2 separate regions of the Homo sapiens genome follow, and region 1 is linked to region 2. Evidence: fine-mapped expression QTL. A gene starts in region 2. The other region holds a variant in brackets. All regions are shown on one strand. Distances are from middle to middle. Region 1 overlaps SYT6 (synaptotagmin 6). Region 2 holds the start of SYT6 (synaptotagmin 6).

What was found. PIP is the estimated chance that this variant, and not a neighbour inherited with it, causes the effect.
Region 1: its variant is the best candidate, but not a certain one, in a credible set for the expression of SYT6 in skeletal muscle (GTEx, PIP 0.55).

The regions. Positions count from the first base shown.
Region 1 is chr1:114,101,393-114,106,761 of GRCh38, reverse strand. SYT6 (synaptotagmin 6) reads left to right here. Exons shown (of 8, transcript NM_001253772.2): 4 at 3,041-3,161. Among named protein-coding and RNA genes, the nearest start is that of SYT6, 50 kb to the left of the region's middle. RefSeq lists an enhancer at 1,220-1,867. The variant C/T (reference allele first, on the strand shown) is at 2,474.
Region 2 is chr1:114,150,431-114,155,799 of GRCh38, reverse strand. SYT6 (synaptotagmin 6) reads left to right here and starts at 1,931. Exons shown (of 8, transcript NM_001253772.2): 1 at 1,931-2,190. The coding sequence starts at 2,028. RefSeq lists an enhancer at 143-756.

The DNA.
Region 1 (5,369 bases), 49 kb after region 2:
GATGCTTACTGTGGGCTGGACCCTGGGCAAGGGTCCATGGGGGTGTGGTGTGGGGGCATGATGTAGGTATAGGAGTATCCAAGCAAAGAGGAGAAGGGGAGGCATTTTGACAAGAAGGACCAACAATATACCAGCCATGTGGAGCAGAGGGTTGGCACAGAGAAGGGAGAGAGCAGCAGGTGAGGAGGTAGGACAGGGCCCAGTTGCTGAAAGCCCCAAGTGCAAGCTAAGAAGATGAGCCTTGATCCCAGAAGCCAAACAAGGGGAACCACTGAAGGGGTTTGAGCAGTGGCAAGGATATATGAAAATCTGGCACCAAAGCACTCACTAGTCACACAGCCTTGGGCCAGTTATTTAACTTCACCAAACACTAATTTTCTCCTGTGTGCAATAGGGATGATGAGAGAGAGAGCACCTACCTCGCAGGGCTGAGGTAAGACTCACCGAGATAATCTAGCAAAGTACTTAGCAGAGGCCTGGCACACAGTCCATGTGCAATGGGTTGGTTCCTAGTACTGTGCTCACTGAATCTAAAGAGTTTCAGTAACTTGGGGCTTGAAGGGTTATTAAGGGAAATAAAGGGGCTTCTCTTTACACCTCAGTGCCTATGTGAGACATGGAATATTTAGCCAGATGTGATGCTGATCTGCCCCCTGCCGCAGGACCCATGCCAGGGCACAGGGCACTTGCTATGTGTCTCTCTCTTGACTAGGGGACTAGGGAGCCAGGAGATGCACCTGAGTGAGATGGGGACTCCAGCACCTTCTTTTAACTGGTTACGCCCCGCTAGACCATCTGCATGTCGAGGGTGGGGACTGCATACTCTCCACAAAGCATGGTGCCTCTGGCAGGCACTCTGTAAATACGAATGGAAACAAAAATGAACAAGTGGATGGAATGTAAGCCAAGGTGCAGAAGGGTGAGGGTTCCCTTGAGCAGCTTCCTAGATGAGCTGGAAGGGCATTGCTCAAAAGCGGAGTGCAAGGACCACTCTCTCGAGAGTCACGAGTCCAAGCAGCTGGCAAGGCTTGTAAACCTGAGCAAGTTATTCGTCCGTGAAATGGAGGGGAAAATGCCAACAAGCCTGCCTCGCAGAGTTGCTGAGAGCCTCACAGCTGGAAGTGATCTTCATGGAGGCGCTTCACAGGGGCTGGTGTGGGATGGCTGGCTCTGCGGAGGCCACGTGGTTCTGTGTGCAGGAGGGGTGGCTGTCTCCACAGTGTGCCCCGCCCTGGCCCCAGCCAGGCCCTTCCTGGGAAGCTGGGGGTATTCACCTTCTGCTGTTCCTAGAATTTGATTTGGGGGGTGACTTTTTTCGGGGGCCTGGACAAAAAGACAAATCTAGGGCTAGGAAAAGAGGGTGAGGGTGTCAGGGCTGCCTAGAGGAGAGTGCGGTGAGCGCAGGCTCTGGAGGTAGGGGGAGACAGGGCCTTGGCTTATTCTCCAGGGGGGGAACAGGGCTGTAGGAGTCTCCAGGAGAGGGTGGCTCTTTGCAAGGAGAATGGACAAAAACCCTGGTGTCACCCTCGACTCTTCTCTCTCCCAGAAGTCATTATCTCCTTAGAGAGGTCTTCTCTAGCTAAACATTCAACAACTGTAGCCTCCTGCTGGTCATTTTATATTCCACTTCTCTGCCTTTTGTTCTCCTTGATACTTTTGACTATCTAACTTATATACTTACCTCCTTTATTGTCCTTTGCCCTAATAAAATGTAAGCTCCACTCGTAAAGATGGCAACAATAGACACTGGGGACTACTAGAGTCGGGAGGGAGGGAGGGGGCAAGGTTTGAAAAGCTAACTGTTGGGTGCTATGCTCACTACCTGGGTGGCAGGATCATCTGTACCCCAAACCTCAGCATCATGCAATATACCCATGTTACAAACCTCTATATGTACCCTCTGAATCTGAACCTAAAATAAAAGGTGGAATTTTTTTTAAGTTGAAATTTATTTTTTAAGTTCCATGAAAACAGGGATTTTTGTCTGTTTTGTTCTCTCCTATATCCTTAGCACTCAGATCAACACTTAGCACATAACAGGTGCTCAATAAATAGTTGTTAACTGACTGAATTACTGAATGGATGGATGGATGGAGGGCCTCATCTGAAATCACCCTAAACGCTGACCTCTTCCTCCTCAAACCTGACTCTGGAAGCCCTATGGGAGGAAATGTCTCCATATCTTGGAGTCCCTCCTCAAACCTGTGGGAGGAGGCTTCACCGTGACAGCGCCCTCCTTCATCAAATGGAGGAAGCAACCTGGCAAGGCACTGTTTAATGCCACAGATGGGTGTGCTTACTGTCTTTGAGGTTTTCCTGTTCTCTCAGAAACTCCCAGGAATCCCTGGCCATGACAATTCTGGGGTTAGGAGAGGCAGCAGAGCGTGTGCTCTGTGCTGGGTTTATTTTTAAAGGATGACCACATTTAAGGAGAAAAGAGAAAGTGGACCTGAGGCCTGGCATCAAACACTTG[C/T]CATCAGATGGGATGGAAAGTGTTTGTCTCCTTGGTTGGCTGTGATTGACAAAGAACAACTGCACTGAGGGGCAGAAGAAGAAAAGAATCATGGACCTGCTGGGAGAGGGGACAGCTGAAGTCTAGAGCATGTGTCTTGTCCAGGACACTGTCATGACCACATGCCTGGATGGGCAGGAAGTCAAGGGGGTCAGTGACTGAGAAGGGTGGGCTGGAGGAGAACAGGAAGAGGCCACAAAGGGGCTGGTGGTTTGAGGCTGCAGCCAAGGGGCGCATGGAGATCAAGTCAGGCCAAAAGCAGAACAGCAAGGACCAGGGTCAGAATGTGGTTGACATTGAGAGGGAATATTGGAAGGGGCAAATTGTACTGAAGAGGCAATATTGTTTCCATTGCCTTTTATACCCTGTTACTTGCAGCATGGAGGCCAGTCCCTTAGTCTTAAAAACACAGCACAGTGTCTCCAAGAGCCTCCTCCTGACCCCAGAGCGCCCCAGCAGATACTGCACTGGACATGAGGCCCATGGTCTGCAAGCCCCTCATCTGCCCTCTTGTGTGCTTCTTTGCAGGAAAGCGTGGACTTGGGAGAGATCATGTTCTCCCTTTGCTACCTGCCCACTGCAGGCAGGCTCACCCTCACAGTGATTAAGTGTCGGAACCTCAAGGCGATGGACATCACAGGCTATTCAGGTACCTCTCTTAACCCAAGTGGCCTGCCAGCAGCCCAGACATTAGGATTTGGAAGGGTGTTCGGGGAGAAGGAGAAAGAATTGTCAGCATTCTTAGAATAGAAGCACCAGCTCTGGACACAAACTGCCTGGATTCGAATTCCAGTTCTGCCACTTCTTTGCTGTGTAAATGATTTGGTTTTCTAGTCTGAAAAGTGGGAGTAATAATATCTTACATGGGTTGCTTTCAGGAGAAATGAGTTAATTCATGTAAATGTTCAGAATGGTGCCTTACACATATAAGCACTCAGTAGATATCATCTGTTGCTGTCATTCTTTCTCTTAGAAGAGGGAGATAACAAGAAGTAAATATATAGGATTTAAAAATTAAGGATAAGTTTTCTTATTTATGTGAGGCCCCAGGGTTATGTCGTTTGAGTGTGTAAATGTTTGCCGGTCTATGCAGGCTTATGGCAGCAATTCTGTGCACTGAGCCAAGGAAACAAATCCACTGAAAAGCAAAATGCATTTGTATTTGAGGCTTTGCTGCAGGCCTCCTGGCCTCAGCCTCAGCACCAAGAGAGCTGCTAGGTACAGCAGGAACATAGAAATATAGTCTTATTCTAGCGACAGAGGAAATGCTTGTTTGGGGGCAGCTGCACAGAGACCTGCAGGATGGACGTAGTGTCAGAGGTTTGAGTCTTTCCCCACAATTCTGCAAGTTGTGGAAGGAGGTATTTGAGTTTGGAAATAACAGAGGAGTAGCTTGAGTCTTGGGAGCCTCCTTCCCTCATCAGCTCAGACTGCTCTGAGGAGTGAAATGGGGTGAAGCCTCTTGGTCTGGGCTGCACTCAGAATTGCAAATGTGGAAAAAAGCTCAGTTTGTTTCCCTAGATCCCCTGTCCTCCTGCTCAAGAGACTCTCGATGATTCAGATTACCAACGTAAAACCACTCAGGAGGTGCTTCTGAACTTAGCTGGGAATATATTAAAGATTTTTCCTCATATTTGCTTTGTATTCTTTATTTATTTGCTGGAAACCCCCTAAGTTGTGGAAGAAGGTATTTGAGTTTGGAAATAACAGAGGAGTAGCTTGAGTCTTGGGTATAATCAGTTGCTGGAAAGAGGTGATGGCCCAGCCGAAAACACCTGGGCTCAGGTGTAACCTGGTGCAACTGGAAGAAGAGGAGGTATCAGGCCTTGAAAACTGAAGTTTCAGGACAAGGTGCTCAGGAAACCCTAGAGTAACATGTGTTTGTTGCAGCTCTGAGTCCCTCAGAGCTACCCACACACATCAGGATGTGGGGAAGAGATTAACGGACCTCTTCTGGCCTGGGAAAAGCTTAGGCAGCAGCAAGTCAGCTTCCCCTAAAATACAGCCAATGTAGATTTCATTTTAATACCAAAATAAGTGCATAACAGGGAAGAAAATTCACTGAAGACTCTCAAGGCTGCTGAGGGAAATAGGATTTTGCTGCCTAAGTCCCCACACTATCTTCTCTGGTGTAATTAAATTGATGTGCTGGAGAGAAAGCCTATGGTGAAGCTGCTGAGGTCATCACAAAAGCTGCTCTGAATCAGAGGGTTTGGGGTGTGAGATTTTGTTCTTGCTAAGTTCTAACCTCCCTTTCACAATTGCCCCTCTTTTTGACCTGGGTTTGGAACCTGTTATTAAACCTTGGCTTGATTCCGAAGATCCAGGGGTCTTCTTTTCATTACAAGTTTCTGTCTATTTTGTTCATTGATGTAAGCAAGTATCTGGAACAGTGGATAAAACACAGTAAGCATTCAATAAATAGATACCGAATGAATGGATGGTTGAATTTACAGCATGAGGAACCTGGCCCAAGGGTGAAGCAGTGGGGGTGTACTTGCTAGGAGCCTCTCGAACTAGATCTCCTGTTCTTGAGGATGAGTTTGAGGTTTCCCTCAGCCCAGACTTATTCGATGTTGGACTAAGCTAGGTATTGAATGGAGCTTATTAATTGCCTATTCTTGAATTGTGTGGCATTGATGTCTAAAACCCAGGATCTTCCTATTCTCAATGATCTAAACTAGCCCTGAATCAATTCTCTAAGCCTATCTGCTAGAACCATGACACTAAAAATAGCACAAAATAATAATAAGGACCAGTATGCTACAAAGGGGTGGTGAGCACATTCTAAATGCTGGATTTTGATTGCTCCCATGACAATGAGGCTGAAATACACTGCTGGTCTTTGTGTCCCCTC
Region 2 (5,369 bases):
CATCACAGGTCTGGGCCCTTGGAATGGTCCTGTGTTTTTTCATTCTCTGCAAAGGCAAAACAAGGTGCTTTGTTCTGTGAATTTCCCCCAGGAACTCGCGAGGGGGAGGGAGAAATAGCAGGGGAGTGACAGAGTTGCCATAAACACGGGCAAAGAGCAGTTCTCCATTTGTATTTTACATAAACACAAACCTGCCACTTGGGAAACTGCTAATAAGCGTTTAGCCAGAGGCTCTTCTGGGTGCTGAGATCTGCATCGGGTGATGGAAAAGAAATTAATGGGGCCTCTAGGCTCCTCAGGTGGGTTTTCAGAAGCACCAGGAAGGCGCATAGGGATGCCAGAGCCCCACTTGTTCTTGGAACAGCAACCAAACACCTCCAGCAGGAAGGCAGCCCGGATTGCACAGTATCGCCTGCGTCGTGTCTGCTTGGTCCCTGCCTGAGTTCCTAGCCTTCTGCTATCACAGGCACAGGGGTCAGGGTGGAAGCTGCGAACCTTCAACAATTGCCTCTCCCTCGTCCCCTAAACTTATGCCCACGCGATGGTAGCACCAACTGGGTCTTCAGCACCGTGGACAGAGCCAGGGGGCGCCTCACGGTGGAAAAGCCGCCTGGCTGGGCCAGGGTCCTCACAGGCCTTGCCTTAGCCCTTGGTGCCCCAGGCACCAGCTGCTAGGGGATCGCAAGTCCAAGGGCCGGTTGGCACAGATGGCGCGCAGTGGAGACCGCCAGGAGCTAAGGCTCCGAATCTCCTCCCTCCGGAACGTGAGTCACTGCCCGAGTCACTTCCAATAAGCGTGTTAATTAAGAGGCAAGACCTTTCTCCCTCGCCAGCCACTCGGGCATACACCAACCCAGCAGCCTCCAGGGGCTGCAGCTAAAGCTTCCTTCCCAGCTCCGGGAGAGCAAATGGACCTGAGTCTGGGGCTTCAGGCGAGCCCCACACAGAAGGGGCCCCACCGCCGACAGGTGTAGATCAAGAGACTCCCGAGATAGGCCCCTGCAGGGCGCTGGTCCCCCGGCCTCCCTGACCATGGCTCACAGACTTCCAGCGCTGAGTGAGGCAGCTCGAAGCCTCTCAGCCGATCTGTTCCTGGGCCTCACTCCACAGTTTCTGAGGGGATCTCTACTTTAAGTCTAGCCTCAATCCTCCCGTTGAGCTTTCTGTCTTTCTTGTTATGCTTAGCAGAAAGATACATGATCTCTGGTGCTGTTTCACCGAAGCAAGGAGGTGGGTCGGCGGAACTGAGCGCCCTGCGCCCTCTTGAAATGACCCCCCATTCCTGTTTGCCAGAAACTTTTCCCTCCCGTTGCCATGGAGAGAGACGGCCGCTGCCTCCCGTCGCCATAGCAACATGCGGGTACCGCGGACCGCAGGATTGCGGAGCTCGGAAAGTCTTGCAGTTCGCATCGCCCGCCTGTCTTGGGGTCTTCTACCTCCGAAGCTGGGACTCGGGGGCCAGTCTAACTGCTCCCGTCAGGAACCTCGGCCAAGGTCCTCCCAGACCCTGCCTGACCGTCGCTCTTTCTGTTACGGGGTTATCTATTTCTCTGTCATTCGTGTGGCATGTGGCAGTTTACCCAGTGTTTTCACAAACACGATCTTTCTATCCCCAGGGAGTCCGTGAAGTACTTAAAATCATTACACCTCCTTTACGGAGAGGAAAATTGAGGCTCAGAGACGCCCAAGGTCACACCAGGCAGTGAATGCGGAGTGGGAACCCGGACTCTTTCCTGGCCTTGCACCCTCCGAGATTCGGGACAGCCCGGCTTCCCGCCTCGAAACCCCCACCCCCCGGACTCAGGCCAGTCCCTGAGTGTAGAGGGGGCGGCCGCGAGGCGCCAGACTCGCCAGCTGCCGCGGGATGCCACGTGAGGGGCGGGGACCCTGCGGGGAAGTGATTAAAAGCAGAGCGGAGCCGCAGGGGGCCGCTGCAGGGAGGGTCTTCTTGGGGCCGTCGTGCCCCGCCCCAGTGCGGCCGGGGCGCGGGTTCGAGCTGCTGCTCGGCAAGCCTGGGTGTCTAGGGCATGAGCGGAGTGTGGGGGGCCGGCGGGCCTCGGTGCCAGGAGGCGCTCGCGGTCCTCGCCTCGCTGTGCCGGGCCCGGCCGCCCCCTCTCGGGCTGGACGTGGAGACTTGTCGGAGCTTCGAGCTGCAGCCCCCAGAGCGGAGTCCCAGCGCGGCAGGCGCAGGTAACGGGAGACCCAGGGCCCCCTCCCTTCCTGGATATCCGTCCTGCGATCTCCCTTCCCCAAAGCCCCGGTCCCAGGAGCCCCAGAACCTAGAGAGAACTCCCCAGCTCGGGATTCTGGATTGGGAGCCAGCCTCGTCCAGCCCTCTGGCCCATCGCTTGCACAGCCAGGAGAGACCCGAAGGGGAGCGGAGGTTGGGGTAGAAGCCCCCGGCCCTCCTGTATTACTACTGCGGAATGCGGGGGACCCCGCAGACAGCCAGGCTCCCAGGACGGGGCACCCTTGGGGCTTCAGTTTCCCTCGCATCTCCAAGCTCGCTCTGCGGGCGATTTGCCAGGAGAGGGGTCCATGGAGAGAGCGGGAGACGAGGGGCGCCCGGCTGAGGAATAGGGCTTGCCTCCTAGCGAGTGTCGAGGTCCCCGGGTCCGTGCGTCGGTCTGTCCGTCCGTTTGTGTGTTCTCGCGGTGAACGCGGGCGGACCCCCAGTCTCTCCGGGAGAAACTTGGGTCTGCGGCTGGCACGAGGTCTTTGTGTCCGGGTGTCTCTCCGGCTGCGAGTGGTTTTCCGCGTCTCCGCTGGGGGGCGGGGGACAGGGGGCGGGGTGGGGGAGGGTATGAGGGTGTTGCGGCGTCCTTCCCCCACCCCCTCTCGCCCCTATAACTCGCTCCCTCCGTCCCTCTCGGACTCGGACTCGGGGCCGGTGCGCGACTGAGCTGGCGCCTCTAGCCGACTTTGCCAAGAGGGCGCCTCCTGCCCGATCCGCGCTGACCCTGCGCGGGACGCAGCCCCAGGCGGCTGCCTAGCCGAGGCGGGAGCCCGAGCTGAGTCGAGCTCGCCGGAGCGGGTGAGTCCCGAGCCCGATCCCCGCCGGGCTGGACCCTGGCGCGCAGCTGCGGCGTCTCCGGGGAGTCGCGGCAGGGGGAATGGCGTGTCGCGCCCTGGCGGCGGGAGCTGCGGGAGGGTCGGCGACGTGGCGGCCGGCCCAGGGTATTTACCTGCTGCACCAGTGCCCGGCAGCCACGCTCGCCGGCTGCCGCGGGGCTTCTTTGTCCCGATATCTGGAGGGTCCGGGGCGGGAGGGAGTACTGGGTCGCGTCCCCTCCATGGGGGAGGGGCTGGGGGAGTGAGAGGCCTGGAGATAATGCGGAGTGGGGGTGGGGAGATCCTGCAAGGACCAGGACGCCGGGGTTCCAGGAGACTCTGCAGGCTCCATCCCTCCTTATTCCCCCACCCCGACCCCAGTAGCGCTGGGCCTAGGAGCACTCGGGAGTTGCTCAGTGGCTCTGCACCGCTGGCGCGGGAAGGGGAGAAAGGGGCTGCCAGAGGCGGGAATTTGGTCCCCACGCGCTGCTCCAGGGACGAGAAGCCAGGGACCGGCGGTTCTGGGAGCAGGTACAGGTGGGGTAAACTCCCCAGCGGCTGCAGGTCCCAGGGTCCTGTTTTCTTTCACTTGAGGTTAAAGGTCGTATATAGAGGTAGATACCCGTGAGGAGCAGTTCGGGGGAGGGGGCGGTGGGCCAAGGGGAGGCTTGTGTGTGTGAGGGGGCTGTATCCAGCCTTGGGGTGAGCGGAGCCCACCTGAGCCCTGTGAGGGTCGTAGGAGGCGCTGCTGTCCCTAGTTGTGGCAATGTTTAGTCAATGGTTTGATCACTGCAGCAGAAGGGACTGAGGTTAGACATAAAGAACTTTTAGAGGGTGGTACAGAGATGGAGGTTGGGGAAGTTGATTCCCTGCCTTGGAGATTCGCAGAACACATTAGGCCTAACAAGTTATTATTATAAGACTCTGGTTCTCTGGTGCCATCCCCTCCTACACCACGCATACACACCAGACACAGAATTTTCCCTATCAGGGAGCCTCTTCCTGCCTCTCCCTACTCCCCAGCTCCCTTCCGTCTTTTCCACCAATGATCCATCTCCAGTGGAGCCTTAATGCTGGTCCTGACCCTCAGAGCCTAGAGGGTGAGAACATACCTGTGGAGTTCCATCTGGGATGGAAGCTGACTCTCCTGTCTGTTCAGGGCAGAAATGCTGGGGGTGACGGTGGAAGTTGCTGGAAGTGGGGCAGGGCTGTATGTGTGCAGCACATCTTGGTAGGGGGAGGCACAGGTGTTCTGACTCCACAGAGATACCCATAATCTGGAATGACAGGTGCCTGGATGGCCAGGTTGAGGGTGAGAAAAGCCTGAGGGGTGAGAGTCGGCAGGCCCAGATGAATTACTATGCCTTCCCTGCAGGCTGCATCAGAAGATGAGTTCTAGTTGTTAGCTCAGGAAAACTTTAACTTTGGCTGCTGAGTCACAAGTCCCAGGAAGCCCAGGGTCCAAGCTGAGAGGCTGAAAGGGATATGGGGAGGCAGGAGCAGACCCTTTGATCATAGCAAGAGAAAGATAGTGGTTGAGAGTGGCCTTGGGATTTTGAGAATTTAGGTGACCAGAGGGTCTGGGGAGATGCCATGGAGTTCAGGACCAGGCCCCAGCTGTTCCGCCTCCCAGCCTGCTCTCTGGGTCCAGATTCTCCAACCAGCACAATGCTAGAGCTTTTCATTTGTTGCAGTTTTATGAAAAATGCAAGTGGCTAGAGCAGGCCCAGCTCTGTTTACCATTTTATGTTTTCCCTTGACTTCTTCCTGTTCTAAGTCTCTAGCTTACAGATTTCTAGTAACACCCTGAGACTGAGATTCAGACTCCACTGTCATTTGCTGAGACTCCTCTATAGGCTAGAGTCTGTGCTAGGAATTGCACAGGAAGTCTCAGTTAATCAGACCCTGACTTGGAAACACCTGTACACAAACTGTCCAAACTAAAAGCAAGTTTCCCCTTTTTCTTTAAAAACTCTGAAGCCATAGGCCTGCTATTCTCCTTAATACACCCCAAGTGAACACTAATAAGCAGTTCTCCACCTTTCATTGTGTCATTTGCCTTGTAGAAATGAATGAACTTTTTCCATAAGCCAAGCTGCAGAGGTTTAGGTATGGTCAGCATGGGTTCTGGACTTAAGGTAGCAAGCAGAGGTCCAGAAGTGCTCCAGCAAATGCAGAAACCTGACAGGAGACCTCAAGCTTCCCTGTTTTTCTTAGGCTGGCAGCCGGGAGTGGTTAACTCCAGTTTACTTGTGGCCATGAAATTTATGTGATGTTTGTCCTTCTCACTGGAAGGATGGAATTCTGCAGATTTTGCC